Linked DNA regions of Homo sapiens. Each later gene encodes a partner of the first gene's protein in a complex. Each region holds a gene or a part of one and is shown on either strand. Other genes may lie near its edges. The genes, in order: EIF4G1 and EIF4E.

The links.
Region 2: the proteins of EIF4G1 (region 1) and EIF4E are in contact, whole or in part, in a crystal structure (PDB 5T46), measured with the Homo sapiens proteins. Residues at the interface, in NP_937884.2 of Homo sapiens: Glu608, Lys609, Lys610, Arg611, Tyr612, Arg614, Phe616, Leu617, Leu618, Phe620, Gln621, Phe622, Ile623, Phe624, Ala625, Ser626, Met627, Gln628, Lys629, Pro630, Leu633, Pro634, Ile636, Asp638, Val639, Val640, Leu641; in NP_001959.1 of Homo sapiens: Pro31, Tyr34, Lys36, His37, Pro38, Leu39, Gln40, Phe47, Lys49, Arg61, Leu62, Ile63, Ser64, Val69, Glu70, Trp73, Ala74, Leu75, Tyr76, Asn77, His78, Ile79, Gln80, Leu85, Tyr91, Glu132, Leu135, Ile138, Gly139, Glu140.

Annotation. Positions count from the first base shown.
Region 1 is NC_000003.12:184,306,951-184,319,417, reverse strand, and holds the start of EIF4G1 (eukaryotic translation initiation factor 4 gamma 1), read right to left. Parts: upstream 4,813-12,467; 5' UTR 4,744-4,812; intron 4,255-4,743; exon of another isoform or gene 3,930-4,254; 5' UTR 3,873-3,929; intron 3,656-3,872; 5' UTR 3,622-3,655; coding exon 3,562-3,621; intron 3,347-3,561; exon of another isoform or gene 3,287-3,346; coding exon 3,200-3,286; intron 2,706-3,199; coding exon of another isoform or gene 2,685-2,705; intron 2,098-2,684; coding exon 1,921-2,097; intron 1,702-1,920; coding exon 1,602-1,701; intron 1-1,601. Other genes in the region: PSMD2 (26S proteasome non-ATPase regulatory subunit 2), read right to left, coding at 10,528-10,710, 10,851-10,969, 11,402-11,528, 11,710-11,804, 11,893-12,061.
Region 2 is NC_000004.12:98,878,776-98,890,873, reverse strand, and holds the end of EIF4E (eukaryotic translation initiation factor 4E), read left to right. Parts: intron 1-2,921; coding exon 2,922-2,985; intron 2,986-3,681; coding exon 3,682-3,795; intron 3,796-4,327; coding exon of another isoform or gene 4,328-4,420; intron 4,421-5,812; coding exon 5,813-5,952; intron 5,953-9,731; coding exon 9,732-9,846; 3' UTR 9,847-11,598; downstream 11,599-12,098. UniProt on the Homo sapiens protein: Acts in the cytoplasm to initiate and regulate protein synthesis and is required in the nucleus for export of a subset of mRNAs from the nucleus to the cytoplasm which promotes processes such as RNA capping, processing and splicing.

The DNA.
Region 1 (12,467 bases):
GCAGGCACTCTTTCCTACCACACACCAGTGACCAGGAGGACTTATGTCTGTCCTTCCACCGTACAAGTTACTCTCGTGTGTGTACCCCACCCGCTATCAACATGTACACACATACTCTGAACCTGAAACAGAACCAGGTCTTTGGCTGGTAATGAGAGAAAGAGATCTGCCAACCCTGTTCCATTTAACTTGAGTCTAGTTCCTGTCTCCAGCCCTTTACAAAGGGGCAAAGAAACAAAGTAACATTATGAACTAGGCTCAAGATGAAGAAAAATTAATTCCTTAAAGCAAACTATCTCCAAAGTGGGTGAGTTCTTTTTTCCCCTTAATTTTTTTTTTTTTTTGAGATGGAGTCTCACTCTATTGCCCAGGCTGGAATACAGTGGCACAATCTTGGTTCACTGCAATCTCCACATCCCGGGTTCAAGCGATCCTCCTGCCTCAGCCTCCCGAATAGCTGGGATTACAAGAGTGCATCACCAGGCCTAATTTTTGTATTTTTAGTTGAGACAGGGCCAGGCGTGGTGGCTCACGCCTATAATCTCAGCACTTTGGGAGGCTGAGGCAGGTGGATCACTTGAGGCCAGGAGTTCGAGACCAGCCTGGTCAACATGATGAAACACCATCTCTACTAAAAACACAAAAATTAGCTGGGTGTGGTGGCACACGCCTGTAATCCCAGCTACTCGGGAGGCTGAGGCAGGAGAATCACTTGAACCCAAGAGGCGGAGGCTGCAGAGAGCCAAGACTGTGCGACTACATTCCAGCCTGGGTGACAGAGCGAGACTCCGTCTCAAAAAGAAAATTAAAATAATAACAATAAAATTTAGTAGAGACGGAGCTTCACTATGTTGGCCAGGCTGGTCTCGAACACCTGACCTCAAGTGATCCGCCTGTCTTGGCCTCCCAAAGTGCTGGGACTACAGGCGTGAGCCACCGTGCTCAGCCCCCCTCAAATTTTAAAATAGAGACAGGGTCTCACTAAGTTTCCCAGGCTGGTCTCAAACTCCTGGCCTTAAGCAGTCCTCCTGACTCCCAAAGTGCTGGGATTACAAGCAAGATCCGGGCACATTCTTTAATTTCATCCCTAAATTCCACTTGTTTTTGACAAGCACAAGTGTATTTGTTTAAATTTTGCATACATATAAACAAAAACATACATGTATGAGAGATTCATACTCAAAACTTTTCCTGATAGGTGATCAAAAAACTTGGAAGCCACTGCCATAAAGAACAGACTAATCCTTCCCTAGAACATAAATAAAAAATAGCTACAAAAACCTCCCAAATTTGCATTACATGGGCTCCCAACCATGGAAGAAGTGTCACAGGGAAAGCCTACTAATAGGCTCTCAGGCTGGTGCCTGATCCTACATTCCCTGATGTGGGAAAGACTCTTAACTCTCCTGGCAATAAAATCAAATTTTCTCCCCACAATCAACACCAGTTAAATATTAAGCACCAATCCCTACCACCTATTAACCTTATCATTTTTAGACCAGAAGCCAAGCCTGGGAAGGGTCTTCTGCTTTAGAAATCAGCAGATGAGTTTAGATGCTCCCTTGGGCTTGTTCTCACCTCTGACTCCCTCCCCTGCTTACCGTAGGTCCCAAATTCTGTAGGGCTTGCACCTGGATAGAAGCCTGGGGCTCCTGGCTGCACAGGGTACTGCTGTGTCGGGACAACGTATGTGGAACGCCCCTGGTGGGGAAGGGGGAGAGGGAGAGAAGGAGTTGAGGGAGCTATGAGTTCCATATCAGACTCCAAAAAGAACATAGGTCAAGACAAGACAAGCCAACTCTGGGCAATGACCAGAAGGAAGTCCCACCTCTGGAAAAGCAATGGAACTGGAGGGTCAGGGTGAGTTAAGTGAGAGGTATAGGGGTCTGTGGCTTCTAGGCTCCAAGCCCCCAGCCTCACCTGTCCAGGGATGTAGTAGGCCCCCTGGGAGGCTGGGTAGGAGATCTGGGAAGGGATCATCATTACTTGGGATCCAGCAGGGTAGACATGGGCAGCTGGGCCAGGGCGGGCAGGGGCTGCACTCTGCACTCGGGAGGCTGCACTGCTCGGGGGCTGGGCCCGGCTAGGGTAGAAGTGCTGTCAGGAGGGAGGAAAGCAGTTGGCATTGTAAAGAGAAGGAAGTGGACAAAAAATTGCCACTCCACAATGTCTCTATAGCCTGGAAAGAAGTACTGTGGGCTTCAGAACATGGCGACCAATCCTTCCAAGACCACTTGACCAAATGGCTAAGCGGCTTCTTGTACACACACATGCCCTCCAAACCTCCAAATTCAGATGTACACTTTGCATCCTGCAGAGATTTACTCTCTCACTGCCATGCATACACACGTCACCTCTACCAAACTACCCCTCTGCAGAGGCTTCCTAACACCGAGATGCATCATGCCTAAGTAAGGCCCTTTCGGGCAACATATCCCCAGCATGCACTGCTCCACCAGCATGTAATGAGGAGCTAACCATAACATGCAACAGCATCCCAGTCCCCAGATGCGCGTTCTTCAAGATGTAGCCCCTAACATGCATCACTCGGCCTCCAACTGAGAACCTGGACACCAAACAAGTCACTACCCTGAAGATCCCCATTCCCTGTGTCTAGCCCCTGACTAGGGTGGAGGGTAAGGATGAGACCAGAAGACTGTCCAGGGTTGGGAAAGGGATATTACCTGCAGAGACCTGAATCCTCCCTGAGAGCACATGGGGATAGGAAAGAAGAGAATTACCCCCAAGGTGATGGCGGGGGGAGGGAATGAAGGCAATAAGACAGGACAAGAATCCTCCCACTTAGTAAGGAAGAAGCTGGGGAACAGAGAAAGGCAAGGACCAGCTGGAGTGTTTACCTCACCACAGTCCAAAGAGAAAGCAGAGAGAGCAATAGAGCAATAGCAGCCTCCGGTAAAAGGAGCAAATAGGAAAGCAAGAGCTGGCAGCAGGGCCCAAAGCACTGCCCCCAATTCTCAGAGGCACTAGGATCCCAGTAATGCCACCCTCATTGACAACATACTATCCAAGGGACCAGCCACCGTGAGTAATCAACAGGGCAAGGCGCAGAGCCGCATGAAAGAACACAGAGGATTAAGGCCAGGTATGGGGCCTCCAGTTTCCATCCTAGACCTAAACTGGCCAAAGCTTTCCACTGCTCCCACCCAGGTCCCCTACTCCCCTCCCCACAGCCCCTCACCTGGCGGGGCTGAGAAGGCGTGTTCATTTGTGTCGCTTGTGGCGTACTGAACACCACCGGCGCTGTCTGCCCCGGGGGAAACGCTGGCTGAAGAGGGGAGACCAGAGTTCAGCAAGAGGGGAAGCCCAGGTGGGGCAGAAACCCAAGCTGGTGAAATAAGGGGAGCAGATCTGCGGCAAGAGCCTTAACAATCCACATACCCCCTCCCCGTGACAGCCCCCGGGGACAGCCCAGGGGCCCTGTCTCAATTTGGCAGCAGGCGGCTGCACTTTGCCCTGACACAGATGGGGGTAGGAAGATCCAGAGGCTGGAGACTGCCTGGTCTCCCCCACCCCCACCCCTGCTAATTCCTCCCTAATTACCTGTGGGAGTCCGGGGGATGGGGCGGGTGGGGGGCCTGTGGACTGTGGAGCTTTGTTCATTTCATTTGGTGCCACATCAGGGTCCCCCCAGCACCTGTTGGGAAAGAGTGGCGCTCAGGAAGAGGAAGGGACCCAAGCTTAAGGCAAATGGGGCGGTGAAAGGGTTGATGCAAGGGCTGGGTCCCATACGGAGTCCCAGAGATGCCAAGAGGGTGAAGCAGAAAAGATACAGCCTGTCCCCACCAACATGCTGTCAAACCCGCATCACTTCCAACCAACCCCTGACCTACTGAAACAGACCCCTCACTCACCCCCTCGATTAAGAACAAGTCCACGGTGCGGCCTACAGGTTCTGGGCATCCGAGGGCCTGGGGTTGGGAGGTGAGGGTATCAACCTGGCTCCGCGGGGCCCCAGACCAACCAGACCGGAAATTCCAGGTCTCGCTGGCACCAGGCTCCCGGATCACGAACGGAGCTAGCTGCTTCGGCCGTGGCGTCCCCACCCCCCACCCGGGGACACCGGGTTCGGGCCTGGCCCAGGGGCACACAGGATACGCCTGCCGCCGGGGAACCCGCACTGGGCCAGAAGCTAGGCCTGCCGCCGCCCAGGAGTGTAGGCCAGGAAGGGCGGGAGTCAGGCCCTAAAAGGCCAGGCGGGCGGCGGCCGTCGAGGAGCCGGTTTCAGGCAAGTGAGGGTCGGCCCGGAGGGCGGGCGGGGCCGGGGGCTCCTCCCTGCCCGCCGCCACCGCCTCCCTCCCCTGCGCCCTCCCTGCGCAGCGCGGGCCAGTGCCAAAGAACAACGTGTCACTTCCCGGCGGCCTGGCCGCGAAGGGGGGAGGGGGCGGCGGGCCGGGAGCCGTGGTGCCTGCGCCCGTGGGCTGCCGGGCCTCCTCGGGTCAGGCCGAGGTGGCATTTCGCGGCGACGAACCCGGCGCCCTACCAGCCCGCGGGGCCCGCATAGTCCGGCCCTGCGCTCCCCACCCCCACCCAGCAGCCAGGCCCGGCCGGGCCAGGCACACGTGGGCCGGGGATCGGGACCCTGGCGGGCCGGGGCCCTGGGTCGGGCCGCGGGGCCAGGGCGCCGGGGCGGCGGCGCAGGGTGGCCGGTCCCGGCCCGGATGGCGGCGGATGCGGGGGGAGGGGGTGGGGGGGCCGGGTCGGGCCCGGACATGGCGGCTTTACCTTCAGTCTCCTTCAGTCCGCGCGGCCGAGCCCCACGCAGCCGCACAGACGTAGTCCACAACCATTTCCGGCTCCCCGCACAGATCCCGCTCGGCGGCCACCGCTTCTCCGCAGGCGCAGCCGGCGCCCCCACGTGACCGGCGCAGGGGGCGGAGCCGCGCCGGGCGATCTGCGCCGCCGAGCACATGGGATTTGCCCCCGCCCCGTCACGTGACAGCCACAGCCCGCCCCCGTGTCCCCTCCCGAACTTTGAAACTCCCAGACCGATTCCCCTCTGTGTTTCTCTCTGTTCCGCGATTCTTTAGTTCATTCATATTTTAAGCAACCATTTATTGAGTGCATGCTAAGTACAAGGCGAAGTGCTGGTTGAGGGCTGAGAAACTGAAATCAAAGTCTCGGCAAAAAAAAAAAAAAAATAAGCGGGGCGCGGTGGCTCACACCTTAATCCCAGTACTTTGGGAGGCCGAGGTGGGCGGATCACGAGGTCAAGAGATCGAGACCATCCTGGCCAACATGGTGAAACCCCGTCTTTACTAAAAATACAAAAATTAGCCGGGCGTGGTGGCGCACCCGTAGTCCCAGCTACTTGGGAGGCTGAGGCAGGAGAATTGTTTGAGCCCGGGAGGCAGAGGTTGCAGTGAGCGGAGATTGTGCCACTGCACTCTAGCCTAGCCTGGCGACAGGGCGAGACTCCATCTCAAAAAAAAAAAAGAAAGAAATTAAAGACTCCGTCCTGCCTAAGTAAATCGTGATACAATACGAATTATGCAGGCTTTGAAAATAATTTAGATTAGGTCATTGAAAGGCCAATAACAAAGGAAATTAAAAGGATAGAAACATTCTAATTAGGCAAGTAGTATGAGATTTGTAGTTTAAAAAGATCATGGGCCGGGCGCAGTGGCTCACGCCTGTAATCCCAGCACTTTGGGAGGCCGAGGCGGGCGGATCACGGGGTCAGGAGATCTAGACCATCCTGGCCAACATGGTGAAACCCCGTCTCTACTAAAATACAAAAAATTAGCTGGGCCTGGTGGCGCACGCCTGTAGTCCTAGCTACTCGGTAGGCAGAGGCAGAGAATTGCTTGAACCCGGGAGGCGGAGGTTGCAGTGAGCCGAAATTACGCCACTGCACTCTAGCCTGGCGACAGGGTGAGACTCCATCTCAAAAAAAAAAAAAAAGAAAGAAAAAAAGAAATTAAAGACTCAGTCCTGCCTAAGTAAATCGTGATACAACACGAATTATGCAGGCTTTGAAAAGAATTTAGATTAGGTCCTTGAAAGGCCTATAACAAAGGAAATTAAAAGGATAGAAACATTCTAACTAGGCAAGTAGTATGAGATTTGTCGTTTAAAAAGTTAGAAACATTCTAACTAGGCAAGTAGTATGAGATTTGTCGTTTAAAAGGATCATGGGCCGGGCGCGGTGGTTCACGCCTGTAATCCCAGCACTTTGGAAGGCCGAGGCGGGCGGATCACGGGGTCAGGGCGGATCACGGGGTCACCATCCTGGCCAACATGGTGAAACCCCCATCTCTACTAAAATACAAAAAATTAGACGGGTCTGGTGGCGTGCGCCTGTAGTCCCAGCCACTCAGGAGGCAGAGGCAGAAAACTGCTTGAACCCGGGAGGCAGAGCTTGCAGTGAGCCAAGATTGCGCCACTGCACTCTAGCCTGGATGACAGTGAGACTCTGTCTCAAAAAATAAAAATAAAAATAAAAAATAAAGGCAGGCACGGTGGCTCACGCCTGTAATTCCAGCACTTTGGGAGGCCAAGGCAGGCAGATCACCTGAAGTCAGGAGTTCGAGAGCACCCTGGCCAACATGGTGAAACCTCATCTCTACTATAAATAGAAAAATCAGCCAGATGTGGTGGCAAGCACCTGTAGTCCCAGCTAGTGGAGAGGCTAAGGCAGGAGAATCGCTTGAACCTGGGAGTTGGAGGCTGCAGTGACCTGAGATCACAACTGCATTCCAGCCTGGGCAACAGAGTGAGACTCTGTTTCAAATAAATAAATAAATAAATGAAATAAAATATAAAAAGAGCAGACACTCCCACGGAGGGGCAAAAGCGTAAGGATGGAAGAATAAGGACAGAAGAGAAGTAATCTTAAAACTGACAGCCGGTCGGGGGCGGTGGCTCACGCCTGTAATCCCAGTATTTTGGGAGGCTGAGGCAGGCGGATCACCTGAGATCGGGAGTTTGAGACCAGCCTGACCAACATAGAGAAACCCCGTCTCTACTAAAAATATACAAAAATTAGCCAGGCATGGTTGCGCATGCCTATAATCGCAGCTACTCAGGAGGCTGAGGCAGGAGAATTGCTTGAACCCGGGAGGTGGAGCTTGCGGTGAGCTGAGATCCTGCCATTGCACTCCAGCCTGGGCAACATGAGCGAAACTCCGTCTCAAAAAAAAAAAGAAAAAGCTGACAGAGGCCAGAAGGGACCATCATCTACAGCCAAATCCACAGGTCAGATTGCTTGAGTTTTCATCCAAACTCTGATACTTATTACCTGGCCAGAATTTGTTAACTTTCCCTACTCAATCAAGTCCCCCAAATATATTGTTGCTTACGTAATAGATAGTGCCTAACCTGAAAATCTGGGATTCATCCTATATTCCTTCTCCATCCACACACTACATCTAATCAGACACCAGGTCTTACTGGTATTTGGATCAAAATCAAGTCCTATTGATCTTATCTTTTAAAAAATAACTATTCTACCCTTCCCTATGTCCCCATTTCAACTGCCTTAGTTCAAGCATTCATTTTCCTTGCCTGCTCTCCTGTCCTCCAGGGTTAGCTTTCTCACCCAGATAGCTGATCATGTCACTTTTCTGCTCTCATTCAGTGGGCCCCATTGAAAGATACTGTCAAATTCTTAGCACAACAAAGCTCTTGTAAACCTAGTCTGAGCCTGAATTTCCAGCTGTATCTCCTACCACCCTTTTCCCTGGCCCCTATACATTTAGCCAAACCAAATTATCTGTAAGTTTCTGAAAACAGCTTTTCCTCCTTCTTGCCTTTGCTACTCCCTTAGCTATATTCTGCCCTCTTTTCCTCTGTACAAACTTATCTTCCTCTAAGGATATAAGCTTCCTCAAAGTCCCCCGATTGCCCCAGGCACTTAGGCCCCATCTCAGTGATACCAGGGTACCTTGTTCACACCCTGGTAAGTATCGATCACAGTTGTTTTCATCATTTCATTAAACTTTTTGAGCATAGGGGTTTTTTTCTGTATTTGCATCCCCATAAATTAGACGAATGTCTGATGCAGAGTAAGGCTCCACTGCTATTCACTGATGAATGAAGAACTAAAGGTGAAAGGTTAAAAGCCACTATGAAACTGTCTTATTCTAAAGCACAATCACCTAAATCACAATTTGGGAGAGAATCATTCTTTTTAGTTTACAAATCACTTTTTATTCTAACATCACCACCACTGGAAATCAGGTAAGGCAACTACTATATCCACATTATATAATAACAGAGGCTCATCACATCACACATGCTAACTTGAAGATTATGGCAGGAACCATAAAGGGGCTCAACAGGGATTCCTTAATCCTGTTTCAACCTTTTTATACAGGCTGCCAAGATGACTCAATCCAAAATTGCTGATGTCTCATGCCTGTAATCCCAGCTACCTGAGAGGCTGATGTGGGAGAATCACTTAAGCCTAGAAGTTCAAGGCTGCAGTGAGCCATGATCATGCCACTGCACTCCAGCCTGGGCCACAAAGTGAGACTTTGTCTCTAAAAAAATTTAGTAATAAAATAACTGGGCCAGGTGTGGTGGCTTACACCTGTAATCCCAGCACTTTGGGAGGCCGAGGCAGGTGGATCACAAGGTCAGATCGAGACCATCCTGGCCAACATGGTGAAACCCCGTCTCTACTAAAAATACAAAAATTAGCAGAGCATGGTGGCGCATGCCTGTAGTCCCAGCTACTCAGGAGGCTGAGGCAGACAGTCTCTTGAACCCCAGACGCAGAGTGAGCCGAGATCACGCCACTGCACTCCAGCCTGGGCAACAGAGCACGACTCTGTCTCAAAATAAATAAATAAATAAATAGCCAGGCATACTGGCTCATGCCTGTGATCCCAGCACTTTGGGAGCTGAGGTGGAAGGATCCCTTGAGGCCAAGAGATTGAGACCAGCGTGGGCAACACAGCAAAACCCCCACCTCCACAAAAATAAAAGTAGGCCAGCTGTGGTGGGTCATGCCTATAGTCCTAGTTACTACTTGGGAGGCTGAGTCAGGAGGATCACTTGAGTCCAGGAGTTTGAGGCTACAGTGAGCTATGACTGTGCCACTGCACTCCAGACTGAGTGATAAGAGTGAGACCATTTCAAAAAAAAAAAAAAAAAGCCAGAAGTGGTGGTACACACCTGTAGCCCTACCTTACCTGCTTGGGAGGCTGAGGGTCAAGCCTTCTTGAATCCACTTTCTACAAGGACATCCTAGAAGTAGATGTTAACATGATCAAATTCCTCATAGCAGCCTCCCAAGAGGGACAGATGGTTGCGGGAGGTAAAGATGTCCTTTTCATTCAGTAGCACGTAAGTCAAGTTAGAAAAGTATGAGGCTGCCCACTCTTGGGCATCCTTAGCCCAAGGTCAGAAGATGATAGGCTTGAAGAGGGTGTATTGGTGGTGGAGGGTGAGTGTGGGGGGTTATTTACAGGATCCACAAGCCCCCTGAAGTTATTTGGAAGAGTTTGTGTAAAAATTTGTGTATTTGCGTCTCCTAGGAAGAATATCCATTGGCTGGGCACGGTGGCTCACACCTGTAATCCCAGCACTTTGGGAGGCCGAGGCAGGTGGATCATCTGAGGTCAGGAGTTCGAGACCATCCTGGCCAACATGGTGAAACCCCGTCTATTAAAAATACAAAAATTTGCCGGGTGCGGTGGCTCACGCCTATAATCCCAGCACTTTGGGAGGTTGAGGCAGGCGGATCACAAGGTCAGGAGATCGAGACCATCCTGGCTAACATGGTGAAACCCCGTCTCTACTAAAAATATGAAAAATTAGCCAGGCGTGGTGGCAGGTGCCTGTAATCCCAGCTACTCGGGAGGCTGAGGTAGGAGAATGGCGTGAACCCGGGAGGTGGAGCTTGCAGTGAGCCAAGATCGCACCACTGCACTCCAGCCTGGATGACACAGCGAGACTCCATCTCAAAAAAACAAAAACAAAAAACAAAAATTAGCCGGGCGTGGTGGCAGGCACCTGTAGTCCCAGCTACTTGGGAGGCTGAGGCAGGAGAATGGCGTGAACCCGGAAGGCAGGCGTTGCAGTGAGCCGAGACTGCCTCACTGCACTCCAGCCTGGGGGAGACAGCAAGACTCTGTCTCAAACAAAACAAAACAAAACAAAAAGAAGATCCATTACATTTATTGGCTTCTCAAGGGTTCTAAGAAAATGCAAAGAGAAGATGATTAGAAAGGAGGGGCTTAGTTTTTTCCACCCAGGGGAGGGAAGGGGCTCAGTTCTTTCCATCCAGGGCAGTGCTGCTAACCTAAACTCAGCGTTGCTCCTAACAATGCCCTCTCACTTCCACTCCTTACTCTAGTTTAGACTCCAGCCATGACACCCCAGAAAACAGACACAGAGAGACCTTGGGGATAAAAGTCTTTATTGAACAACCTTATCTCACTCAGTAACAAAAGAGCAGGAGGCGACAATTCCCCCAGAAGTCTGCAGCCGTGTCCACCCTTGGCAGCAGGATGCATGGCCTGCTGATAACATCAGCTGCAGTTCAGAGCCCCTGGTGGTCACTTAGAGATCATAATTGGGGTTCTTCCGAAGGATAACAAAACCTTCCAGAATGGGGGTAACAGGAAGAAACTCCTCAGTGGCCAATTCTGCCCGTTCCCCGTGGGCCAACAACACTGGGGTTGTATGCGTCTGGAACCCTGTGATAGTCTTCGGCTTGCCAGCCTGGCCCACCACATCCACTGCCTGTAGGGTAAGAAAATTGAAAAGAGAGATGGAAAAGTAGCGACAAGCCACCGCCCACGCCAGTTTCAGCAAAGCAAGTATATGTACATTCTCCAGTTTGAGAATACAGCCTGAGCCCTCCCCTCTACTCAGCCTCTCACCTGGCCCACACGGACAGACACTGGCAATGGCCGCAGCTCCTCATCAAACGTAACCAGCATTCGGGGCTGCATGGCAGCCACCAGCCCATACAATACATAGTGTGATTTGCCTAGAATAACTGAGGGAAGCAGACAGGACAAAAAGTTAAGAGACAAAAAGACAGGCCTGGCCAGAAACATTGAGAGCCCACCTCAGCGCTGACCCTTTAACCCGTCAGTCATACGACTGAATCCACACTCCTCCCCTCATACACCCTACTACGAACCAGAGACGCCCCCACCTCACTTTGCTTACAGCCCTTAGACTTGAAAATCGCATTTCCCCAGTGACTTAGGAGCAGACGCTGGGCACATCACCCTCAAATCTCTTTGGGCCAGATCAAAAGTGTGGGTGATGAAAGTCTCATGTCACAGGCCCAAAGCCTGTCTCAGAAACCTAGAGCGATACAGAGCTAAACTGGGGTCTTGAACCTAAATTATCAAAGTGGCCCTGGAAAGGGTGGAGTCAGAGCCCTGCATGCTATGATATAAAATTTCTGACAGGAACTCACTGTTTCGAACATCCAGGAAAGAGACAAGCACAGTGAGCAGTCCAGCCACGGCCACCTGGCTCATAAGCTGCCGGTCGCTGTGGTAGGGGCAGAGGGTAAGGGTGCCCTTCCCTAAATGTGTCAGGCCCTGAAAAAAACAGAGGGAAGTAGAGGTGAGGAGTTACCACTGAGGAGACATCGCCTAACCCAGCCAAACAGAAATCTCCCACTTGGTCACATCTTTCCTCCTGGGCCAACACTCCATGTTCCTCCTTCCATCACCACAGATACTTCCCCGGCACGCTCTGTGGAGGAGTTCTATTCTTTACCTGTGCCAAGCGCACCATGAAGAGGTTGTTTGGGTCCTTGGCATGATATTGAGCTAACTGGCGCAGCATTGCAGCCAGACGGGCATTATTGGTACCTGGAAATGTTAAGCATTACAGAAGTGAAAAAAGGGGCTTCAAATCTTCCCCCAATCTGTTTATGACCTTCTTCTGCCGGATACTCACCACTGCCCACCATGCCCATGGCAAAAATGGAGTTATAGGAAACTTCTGGATCAGCATCATGAGAGAATTTGCTTAGGGTATCCAGGATGTTGAGTCGTGGATTTGAAACAGAGATGAGGGCCAGTGCTAAAGGTACAGCCCTCCGGAGTGTAGGCTCCCCATATCTCAGCTGATGATCCAAGAAAATACAACAGTAAGGCGGAATGCAGTAAAAACAAATTCCATTACAGGAGTGGACTGATGGGTAAAAGGGGGCCTTAACTTCTGTAGAAAAGGCACAGCAGGCTGGGCATGGTGGCTCATGCCTGTAATCCCAGCACTTTGGGAGGCCGAGGCAGGTGGATCATGAGGTCAAGAGATAGAGACCATCCTAGCCAACATGGTAAAACCCTGTCTCTACTAAAAATACAAAAATTAGCTGGGCATGGTGGCATGTGCCTGTAGTCCCAGCTACTTGTGAGGCTGAGGCAGGAGAATCACCTGAACCCGGGAGGCAGAGGTTGCAGTGGGCCAAGACCGTGCCATTGCACTCTAGAGCAAAACTCCGCTTCAAAAAAGAAAAGAAAAAAGAAAGA
Region 2 (12,098 bases), on another chromosome or scaffold:
TGTTTTCAGTGCAATATCTGGAATTTCCTGTACCAGAGATTTTAAGATATCAAAGGCTGAAGTGTTCAGAATTCACGGTTTGTCAAGGCAATGCCAGTATCTATCATGATACTTTATTCATTTCATTATACTTTGATCAACCTCAAGAAGAATAGTTGAAATATTTTTGAAATTTTGTTTCTGTATAGCAGAAAGTTAAGAATTGGGATCATCAACTTTTGCATGACCTTAAAACAAAATTTAAGGCTGGGCTCAGTGACTCATGCCTGTAATACTAATACTTTGGGATGCTGAGGCAGGAAGATCACTTGCAGCCAGGAGTTCAAGACCAACCTGGTCAACATGAGTCCCTGTTTCTCTATAAAATAAATAAAAATTGTAAAGTCTATTTCAAGAAGTTTTGATAATTGATTCTCTTAAAAACAAAGTTAATCCAGTGTGTCTAATTTACTTGGAGAATGACTAGGGAGGTACTATTTGAGACCATGAAAGGCAAAACTCTTTAATAAGCACTTTAAATTACCTAGCAGTTATCTAAATATTCTAACTTGTACATCTTTTTTTAGGATCATATACATGCTGAATTAGTGATGCTACTCTTATGTTTTAATGTAACCCCCTCAAGATATTCTGCTCATACAAAGAAATAGATTGTGGTATAAAATTTATACATATGTATGTACATCTTCAACAGCAGAAACAATATTTTTCTGTATATTTCCAGTGCTTGGCTTCTAATAGATATTTTGTATTCATTTGTGTTGCTGAAAAAAGCAAAGCATACGATTAAAACCATAAACTTTGAGAGTATTTGAGAACATTCATTTGAGAGTAAACTTTGAGAGTATTTATTTTTTATTAAAAGCATTGACACTTAATAATAACTACATTTAAGGCCTAATAATTTATAGGTCTAGTTTTCTAGTTAAACTAGGATTATTATTCTTTGCCCATCATCAAAACATCAAGTAGTTTTTCTTCTCTAGTTTTGTTTATTCAGGACTCTTAAATAACTCCAGTCTTCTGCACCCCCCAAAAAAAAGCTTTTCATTCTCCTACAGAGAAAAAGGAAGCCTTGAGCCACCTTCCCCAATCAGATTTGCATTTATCTAGTTTGTTTGGCTTTTACCAGTTTACATAATTCTACCTTCTAATTAGAACAGTTCTCCATGCTTCAGTTACATGTAGTCAATGTCATTACATAGTAGGTTTTTATACCATAACTTAGAGATATGAAGGATTTTTCAGTTTTCTATAAATGTGTGGGCCACTTCCTAATTTCTGTTTTTTTCTAGCAAATTTATTGCAGATAACCATTGAGTCCTTTTGTATTTATCCAGACTGCATAGTCTTAGGATTCTGTTTAGATGTGCCATTATAAATTCTCATGATGGACTTACTTGAGAGACCTTTGAGCACCACAGAAGAGAAAGGAGGCAGCAAAAGGGAAAAAGTATTTTATTGAAGGTCATTCCCACAATATCCATTCATTTTATGACATTAGTAGCGCTAATTTTATAGTCACTTAGTATCCCGTCTTTTTTTGTTGCCTAGTGGAGGCTGTCATTGATGATGTAGTTGGGAGTTACCATTAGGTAGTGACTCAGCAAACCTTATGTGGTCTTAGGTTGTCTCACCTAAACTATATTTGTGTGTTATACTATGGAATTTGATTTAAAGATGCCAACTTCTTTCTTAAATCTTTTTTTTTTTTTTGAGATGGAGTCTAGCTCTGTCACCAGGCTGAAGTGCAATGGGGTGATCTCGGCTCACTGCAACCTCCGCCTCCTGGGTTCAAGCGATTTTCCTGCCTCAGCCTCCCTAGTAGCTGGGATTACAGGCGCATGCCACCACGCCCGGCTAATTTTTGTATTTTTAGTAGAGACAGGGTTTCATCATGTTGGTCAGGCTGGTCTCGAACTCCTGACCTCATGATCCACCTGCCTCGGCCTCCCAAAGTGCTGGGATTACAGGCGTGAGCCACTGCACCCGGCCCTTAAATCTTTACCTGAAATATTCCTAGATGGGGTTAACATAGCACCAGGAGAACCAGACTAAGGATAGTAGAATCATCCATGGTCTGTAGACACAGCTAAGATCATTATTTCTGCCATCTAATATTGGAGACAAGCAAAAGATTCTTAAGAGTTGCCAATTTTTAAATCAATTTTGCTGTAAAAGACTACAGGAGATCAAATGATCTAAGCCTCCTACCTTCAGGCAAGCAACTAAGTCATCGCAAATGTTATTCTGTTATTTTGATACTTGGGAAATAGTTTAGAAATACAGACTGCAGGGTTCCATCTTATATTTAGGTGATTATAATCCCAAGATGTAGGGCTTGTAACTATATTTATTTATTTATTTTTCTAAAATCAGTTTTAAAATGATTATTATGTTGACTAACCAGTGACAGTTTGTGGTGTTTGGGAACCGTTGATCTATTCTACTCTTGGATACCTTCAAGGATAATGACTGTTTCAGTCATGCAATCCTGATGGTCAGGAAGTTCATCGTTTCTGGTTTTTGTTTTTGTTTTTGTTTTTGTTTTTTTATGTTTGTGAAAAAAACTGTGTATTAACTTCAGAAATTATTTCATCTACTTAAAGCCACCTTATACCTCTCTTCTCAGTTTCTTATATATATACATATGTATGCACTGAGTTAACTAACATAAAATATATTTTTGTCAGAGCAGTCACTAGAAGTTTTTTTGAAAATTATACCTGTCATCTGAAGTTGATTATTTAACTGCTTTTAAGATCTGTTTTGTCCATTTTAGAAATTGACTCCTTAGAAACAAGTAAACATGAACTTTTATCTGTTTATTTTCATCATATGTTCTAAATGTATATATATGTAAGCACCTAAACTCTATATTACATATTCTGTGTTTTTAATTGTTATTTTCTTTTACCTAGTCTGTACAACCATATCCAGTTGTCTAGTAATTTAATGCCTGGCTGTGACTACTCACTTTTTAAGGTATGCTTAATTGGTGATTTTATATATTTATTATAGGACTGGGCCATTTGGTATTCATTAAGAAATCTTACCATAAACTTAGGAATATTTGATAGTGTGATGAATAGGCTGATAATTTAATTGGCTGTAGTATGCTTTAGTATCAATATATCTTATTCTATTTGTTTATAAAAATTGAGAGAGAGTTACTCTGTGGGCACATACTGAGATTGATTTTGATGAGAGCTTTGATTATCCAGTCTACTCCTTCCTTTATATATTTGAGCAGACTGAGTTTATCAAGCATTCTTAACCTTAGGAGCATGGGTCCTTGGAATACTTATTATTGGGCTTTGTCAGTTGGTAGAGGGACGGGACATTCATTAACTGAAATTGCATAGTTTTTGCATGTATTTTCTAGCTGTAGAAATGTACAGAGCTTCTAAAATATGTTTGCTTCTCAGAAAGTTTAAGAACCTTCAAATTAAGTGAAACCCAAGATTTGATAGCTAATAAGTGACAAAGCCAGGACTCTAATTCTGCAATGTCATGCCTCTGGCTTTAAGTCTTATGTGCTGTTTAAAAACTACATCAATGGCAGTTTTATGGGCAATAAAGTAAGAAGTTGACAGTGTTGTTGCTTAACTGTTTCTAATGATTATCTCTCAAAGTCAAGGTAACAATGTTGTGTAATACTGTTGTCTTCTAACCCTGTAGGATGGTATTGAGCCTATGTGGGAAGATGAGAAAAACAAACGGGGAGGACGATGGCTAATTACATTGAACAAACAGCAGAGACGAAGTGACCTCGATCGCTTTTGGCTAGAGACAGTAAGGTTTTAAAAGTATAAAGCAGTTTTAGAGGTAGTTTTGGAATACTGATACTTAAGATATGTTATGTTTTACATTTGTTACTTAATTTAAGAGAAGGATGCCCAACACTAGAAAATCAGGGTCAGTAATTATTTTTGTTCTGTCATATGACTCCTGTTTATAGTACAGTGAAACATCCTACCACATTATAAGTCAGATATTTTAAGTGATTGGCAGTTGACTCTCACCACAGTAAGCTCACTGTGGTCATTTCATTAACCTCAAAATTATAGAACCTTACATTTTGTATGATTGAAGTTTTTGCAACCCTCTTACAGCATTGCTATATGTATACTAAACTTTTAAATACTTATATTTTTAGAGCGAGGGTCTTGCTCTGTTGCCCAGGCTGGAGTGCGGATATTTATTTATATGGCTCATTTCAGCCTCACCCTCTGGGTTCAAGTGATCCTCCCACTTCAGCCTCTTAAGTAGCTGGGACTACAGGTGCATGCCACCATGCCCAGCTAATTTTCTAATTTTTTTCCAGAGATGGGATCTTGCTATGTTGCCCAGGTTGGTCTCAAACTTCTGGCCTCAAGTGATCCTCCCACTTCAGCCTCCCAAAGTGCTGGAATTACAGGTGTGAGTCACTGTGCCTGTCCCACTAAACTTTTTAGATTAGTGAAGCAAATAATAAAATTGTTGTGTACTACCATTTGACCTACATGTTGTGATATTAACTGGAACTTCTGGCTTTACAAGACAAATTAAATATGAGATAATAAGCATTTTCTGTAGACAGAGGTTCCAAACCCCAAGCTTATAGGAGCGGGGTTTGTAGTCTCTTTTGTATCCCTAGCACTTGAAACCGTGCCTGGTTTATAGTTAGCACTTGTTAAGTTAATCACTTTAAATGTTTGAATAAGTGACTATTTTGCTTTTTTTTAGAGACAGGGTCTTGTTCTGTCGCCCAGGCTAGAGTGCAGTGGGGCCATCATAGCTCACTGTAGCCTCCTGGGTTCAAGCAATCATCCTGCCTTAGCCTCTCAAGTAGCTGGGACTACAGGTGCATGCCAGCACAGCCAGCTAATGAATGAATGACTTTTTAAGAAGAAAATTCTGTTTTTGAGGGGGAAGATCATGAGCAAATACCATTTTTGAATTCCACATTAAAAAGTCAGGACATTTCCATTTTGCAGTTAAAAAAAATCTTCTGGAGATGGATGGTAGTAGGGATGGTTGTACAACAATGTTGAATGTACTTAACACCACTGAACTGTACACTTAAAGGTGGTTAAAATGGTAAATTTTATGTTATTTGTATTTTACCACAATTAAGAAATCTGTTAGGGCTGGGCTCACACCTGTGATCTCAACACTTCAGGAGGCTGAGGCAGGCATTTCACTTAAACTCAGGAGTTCAAGACCAGTTTGGGCAACATGGCAAAACCCTGTCTCTACAAAAAATACAAAAATTAACTGGGTATGGTGACATGTCCCTGTATGTATGCCCACCTACTCAGGAGGCTGAGGTGGAAGGATCATTTGAGCCCAGGAGGTTGAGGCTGCAGTGAGCTGTGATGATCCCACTGCACTCCAGCCAGGGTGACAGAGCAAGACCCTGTCTCAAACAACAACAACAACAAAAAACCAGACCATTAACAAATATTCATAAAAAATAAGAACAAGAGGAGATTAACCATGAATAGCTATTTTTATTATTCTATTAATATTTGTTTGCTCATAAATATAAGCAGCAGCAGAGCAAATGAATATTAATAAAATCAGCTTTTATGTCTGCCATGACATTAACTGCCAAATTTGCTGAAAAAGGCTGATTTGATAGTAAATAAATGAATGAGTATTTAAAAGTCAGGACAGATCAATATATGCAAATAAAATTTACACATTTAAAAAATTAACTCTTGATTTAAAAACTGCCTTTAGTTTCTATGCAAATACAGAAGAGACATTTGCAGTGTAATGAGCTTGTTTATAATCTATTAAATGTAATTTGGGATTTTTTTTTAAGCTTCTGTGCCTTATTGGAGAATCTTTTGATGACTACAGTGATGATGTATGTGGCGCTGTTGTTAATGTTAGAGCTAAAGGTGATAAGATAGCAATATGGACTACTGAATGTGAAAACAGAGAAGCTGTTACACATATAGGGTAAGTTTTGCTCTTTGCCTACTTATTTTACAGTATTAAGATGAGTAAAACCAGAAGTTATTTTATTTGTAGCTTTAGAAATACTTCAGTTTGTAGATCCTGTTTTCCTTGTATTGTTTTCGTGAACACTTTTATAATTTTGAACGGCTCAATTGGTGCGCAACGTCTTGTTTTTTTGGGTTTTTTCACAGCTATTTATTTATTTATTTATTTAGAGATAGAGTCTCACTCTGTTGTCCAGGCTATATATAGTACAGTGGCATGATCTAGGCTCACTGCAACCTCCGCCTCCCGGGTTCAGGAGATTGTTATGTCTCAGCCTCCCGAGTAGCTGGGAATACAGGCGCATGCCACCATGCTTGGGTAATTTTTATATTTTTAGTAGAGACCAGGTTTTGCCACGTTGGCCAGGCTGGTCTTTTAACTTTTGGTCTCAAGTGATCCGTCCACCTCAGCCTCCCAAAGTGCTATCATTACAGGCATGAGCCACTGCGCCTGGCCTTTTTCATATGTTTTTTATTTCTGTAAAATTGCTTTTTCTTAGCAGTGAAGTATATAACCACTAGAGCACTCTCCTTTGGCATGTAGCATTTTTTATTCATTCACAAATGAGAATGTATTATTTCCTACTTTGAAAGTGCTGTTTGGAAAAAAGTACTACTTTGAAAAGAGCTAATGTATGCTCATAATAATAATTCAGTGATTATTGGCAAATAGTATATGTGCATTTAAAGCATGTGTGTTTACTACGTATAATTTTCATTAAAATTTATATAACATATCTTGGTTTTTGTTCCATGTTTAAAACCCACATATGTAGGGTTTTATTAAACCTTTTTTTGTAAATTTTATTCTTTGCAAAAGTGGCTTTTTTTTTTTTTTTGAGACAGGGTCTCACTGTGTTATTCAGGCAAGAGTGCAGTGGTGCAGTCATGGCTCACTTCAGCCTCAACCTCCTGGGCTCAGGTGATACTCCTACCTCAGCCACCCAATTAGCTGCAACTACAGGTGTGTATGACCACACCTGGCTATTTTCTTGTATTTTTTGTAGAGAAGAGGTTTTGCCATGTTGCCCAGACTGGTCATGAACTCCTGGACTTGATCAAGCCACCTCAGCCTTTCAAAGTGCTGAGATTACAGGCGTGAGCCACCATGCTAAACCAGCTGACATTTTTTTTCTAAGATTTCTTTTTACCTCAATTATATTAGTAATATTTGACACCAGGCGCAGTGGCTCACACCTGTAATCGCAGCACTTTGGGAGGCTGAGGCAGGTGGATCACAAGGTCAGGAGATTGAGACCATCCTGGCCAACACGGTGAAACCCCGTCTCTACTAAAAATACAAAAAAAACAATTAGCTGGGCGTGGTGGCGGGCGCCTGTAGTTCCAGCTACTTGGGAGACTGAGGCAGGAGAATGGCATGAACCCGGGAGGCGGAGCTTGCAGTGAGCCAAGATTGGGCCACTGCGCTCCAGCCTGGGAGACAGAGCGAGACTGTCTCACAAAAAAAAAAAAAAAAAAAAAAATTTGACTTACAATTTTATGTTAAAATTAAGTGCTGGTCAGTCAGTGGTCAAAATGTTTGGTTTGCCCCTTTGTGATTTTTCAAATATTATTAATTTTTCTTTTTAAAATTAATTAATTTTTTGAGACAGAGTCACACTCTGTTGCCCAGGCTGGGGTGCAGTAGCGCGATGTCAGCTCACTGCAACCTCCACCTCTTGGGTTCAAGTGATTCTCTTGCCTCAGCCTCCTGAATAGCTGGGACCACAGGCCTGAACCACTGCAGTAGTTTTTGTAGAGACAGGGTTTCGCCATGTTGGCCAGGCTGGTGTCAAACTCCTAGCCTCAAGTCATCCACCTGCCTCAGCCTCCCAAAGTGCTGGGATTTCAGGCGTGATCCATTGCTCTCAGCCATGTAAATTTTTATGTGAACATAATTTATTTCTGGATCAAAAGGTATAGGGATTTTCTACATTTCATGCTATATGGGGTTCCATAAGAGAAAAGAGTTGATTTGTCATCATATTTTAATGTTTCTTCCAGCATCAAAACCTAATTTTGGAGGATTTACTTTTTTTTTTTTTAAATGAGTTAAATTAAGAATTTTTTTCCTACGGAAGTTTTGTATTTTTGTCAATATTAAATGTTTTTGAGTGTATATTAAGACTTCAGATTTTCAAACGAAGATTTTCTTTTTTAACCTTCCAATTTGCATGACTCAATGGTCTTGCTTTTTGACATTTTTAATAATTAAGTATAATTGAAAGGAATGCATTGCATTATAATGCAAATTTGATAATTAACACTTTAGTTACCATAAAATTACTTTTTAATACCTTATTTTAGGGGGAAGGTAGTAAATCTTCTGGAAGGTATAAAAAAAACCTATCCTAGTATCATGTTGGAGGATTTAACTCCATTAATATCTTTATTCCTTTATTTTTATTTGATTTTTGCTTATTTTTGAATTTTTACTATTTTTTTCCTAAAGATTCTTTTTTCTTTTTTTTTTTTTTTTTTGAGACGGAGTCTTGCTCTGTCACCCAGGCTGGAGTGCAGTGGCACAGTCTCACTCAAGCTCACTGCAAGCTCTGCCTCCCAGGTTCACGCCATTCTCCTGCCTCAGCCTCCCGAGTTGCTGGGACTACAGGCACCTGCCACCACACCCGGCTAATTTTTTGTATTTTTAGTAGAGGCGGGGTTTCACCATGTTAGCCAGGATGGTCTCGATCTCCTGACCTCGTGATCCGCCCGCCTCGGCCTCCCAAAGTGCTGGGATTACAGGCGTGAGCCACCGCGCCCAGCCAAAGATTCAAATTTTTAAGATGACCTATGAAGCTCTCTGTGATCTTCCTCTGAAACCTTGTCAGCTTTATCTCATGTTCACTTTACTTACAAGCCATAGCCACACAGCCTAATTTTTATTTCTCAGCTTTCAAATGTGCTCATTCTCTTAACATTATCCTTTTGACCTCGTGATATTTAAAGGGGAAGACTTCTCTAATGTTGTAGATGAGATTAGAATCTCCTTGTTATACAGTATCACAGCCCTTATGTTTACTCTTTGGCACTCATGACAAGTGCCATTTTATTCTTGCAATAGAGTCATGTCTTACTTGAAAATTAGGTTGTAAAGTTAGTATGTAAAGCAGAAATTACATTCTCCCTCGAAGTGTTTCATTCACTCCCTCGAAGTGTTTAATCTCCCTCAAAGTGTTTAGTTTTTGTTTGTGCAGTCTTATAACAGGTATGGTTAATATAATTTGTGTAGTAATATACAATATTTGCTAGGGTTCAGACGTGAAATGTAACATTTTAGATCAAAGAATGAAACATGTTTGTTTTACAGATTTCTGTTTTTAAGTATGCATGTGATACAGGTCTGTCATGTATTTGTGATTATTTGATTATGTTTTCTCTACTAGACTATAAATGCAGTCAGCTCAGGGACTGTCCTTACTTTGTTCACTGTTGATTTAGTAATAATTATAGTATCATAATAAATAACAATATAATAATATAGTAATGCTCCTGTAATTTAGTAATAACATACCTGACTCGCTCTCAAATATTTTAAAAGTAATTAACCAAGAATATCGCAAAAATGAAGAGTAAATTGTGCTGAAAGGAAAAGGGTGTATAATTAATTTCCTATTTTATTCTCAAGTCTATGTTTTTTAATATAAAGACTAATAACCCTAAATTTTTAAATGTATTTCTTGTGAGTAAAAGTTAATGACTACTTTTTTCTTCTTCTTTTTTTTTTTCTTCTAGGAGGGTATACAAGGAAAGGTTAGGACTTCCTCCAAAGATAGTGATTGGTTATCAGTCCCACGCAGACACAGCTACTAAGAGCGGCTCCACCACTAAAAATAGGTTTGTTGTTTAAGAAGACACCTTCTGAGTATTCTCATAGGAGACTGCGTCAAGCAATCGAGATTTGGGAGCTGAACCAAAGCCTCTTCAAAAAGCAGAGTGGACTGCATTTAAATTTGATTTCCATCTTAATGTTACTCAGATATAAGAGAAGTCTCATTCGCCTTTGTCTTGTACTTCTGTGTTCATTTTTTTTTTTTTTTTTGGCTAGAGTTTCCACTATCCCAATCAAAGAATTACAGTACACATCCCCAGAATCCATAAATGTGTTCCTGGCCCACTCTGTAATAGTTCAGTAGAATTACCATTAATTACATACAGATTTTACCTATCCACAATAGTCAGAAAACAACTTGGCATTTCTATACTTTACAGGAAAAAAAATTCTGTTGTTCCATTTTATGCAGAAGCATATTTTGCTGGTTTGAAAGATTATGATGCATACAGTTTTCTAGCAATTTTCTTTGTTTCTTTTTACAGCATTGTCTTTGCTGTACTCTTGCTGATGGCTGCTAGATTTTAATTTATTTGTTTCCCTACTTGATAATATTAGTGATTCTGATTTCAGTTTTTCATTTGTTTTGCTTTTGTTTTTTTCCTCATGTAACATTGGTGAAGGATCCAGGAATATGACACAAAGGTGGAATAAACATTAATTTTGTGCATTCTTTGGTAATTTTTTTTGTTTTTTGTAACTACAAAGCTTTGCTACAAATTTATGCATTTCATTCAAATCAGTGATCTATGTTTGTGTGATTTCCTAAACATAATTGTGGATTATAAAAAATGTAACATCATAATTACATTCCTAACTAGAATTAGTATGTCTGTTTTTGTATCTTTATGCTGTATTTTAACACTTTGTATTACTTAGGTTATTTTGCTTTGGTTAAAAATGGCTCAAGTAGAAAAGCAGTCCCATTCATATTAAGACAGTGTACAAAACTGTAAATAAAATGTGTACAGTGAATTGTCTTTTAGACAACTAGATTTGTCCTTTTATTTCTCCATCTTTATAGAAGGAATTTGTACTTCTTATTGCAAGGCAGTCTCTATATTATGTCTTCTTTTGTGGTGTCTTCCATGTGAACAGCATAAGTTTGGAGCACTAGTTTGATTATTATGTTTATTACAATTTTTAATAAATTGAATAGGTAGTATCATATATATGGAATTAAATTGATGTGGCTATCTTTGTTTTTTTATAAAGTAAGGCACAGTCATTCAGTCTTAGGTAAATAATGTACTCTCTTAATATGTTAATACTCATGAGAATTGGGATCTGATGCATCACCATTTGATTGGTAGCAACAGTGGTTGTAAAACTTGGTTGCTGAATTGAGTTGTTTCTATGTTAAGTGTCAAAATGATAGTGTAGGGAAAGTACAGGTGGTGGGGACATATGCATTAAGAATCTTGTTAGTGTTGCAATCTAAATAGAATGGAATAAACAGGTGTTAAGACATATTTATAGTGGTAAATTGTTGTAGTATGGTATTCTGTAAACTTGAAAACTTGATCTACTCTTTGTAGGTATCATTTGAAAGCAAACTTGAAAATGTTTTGTACATAGTACATACTTGTATAGTCCTGTGAGATGAAGTATGGCTATCAGACCAAAGGATAAGCCAAACTGTAGGTAGCAGAATGGAAATTATTATTTTGAGAGGAAAATTTGTCTTTGAATGGTGATTATGACTTAATCATTTTAAAACTGATAAACTTGACAAAAACCCTGTATGAAATAAACATGAAATTAATAGCACTGATTTCATTGTAAAATTTTAAAGCAGTTTAAAGGGTACCACAGGTTATCACAGTACTCTCAATGCCACAAACACCTCTTGTTCAGTATTCTAGAAATACTGAATCAGAATTCTGTGTTTATTATAATCTCAGCATACTGTACATAATATCTGCTAGTTAAACTTGGGTAATTGGTTAAGGTGACTTACTGTCTATGTCAATATGTATAGTTTTGAGTACTTCAAGAGTTTACTTAAAAGTGATGATGTTACTGGTATGTTGGCAGTGGGTGGGACTGAAGTAGTGTATCTATTATAAATTGATCTATTTTCTTAATTCTAAGATGAAGTCCAATTTTAAGCATCAGCTTTTAGGTGCAAAGGAGGAATTAACACATTAAATGTATACAGTTCTAAATTTTTGAAATAACTGATGTGTAGCATTTGATTATTGGTATTACCATTTTAGAATCATGATGTTATTTTAAACCTTTTTCCTGGGGACAAGAAAGGATAATAA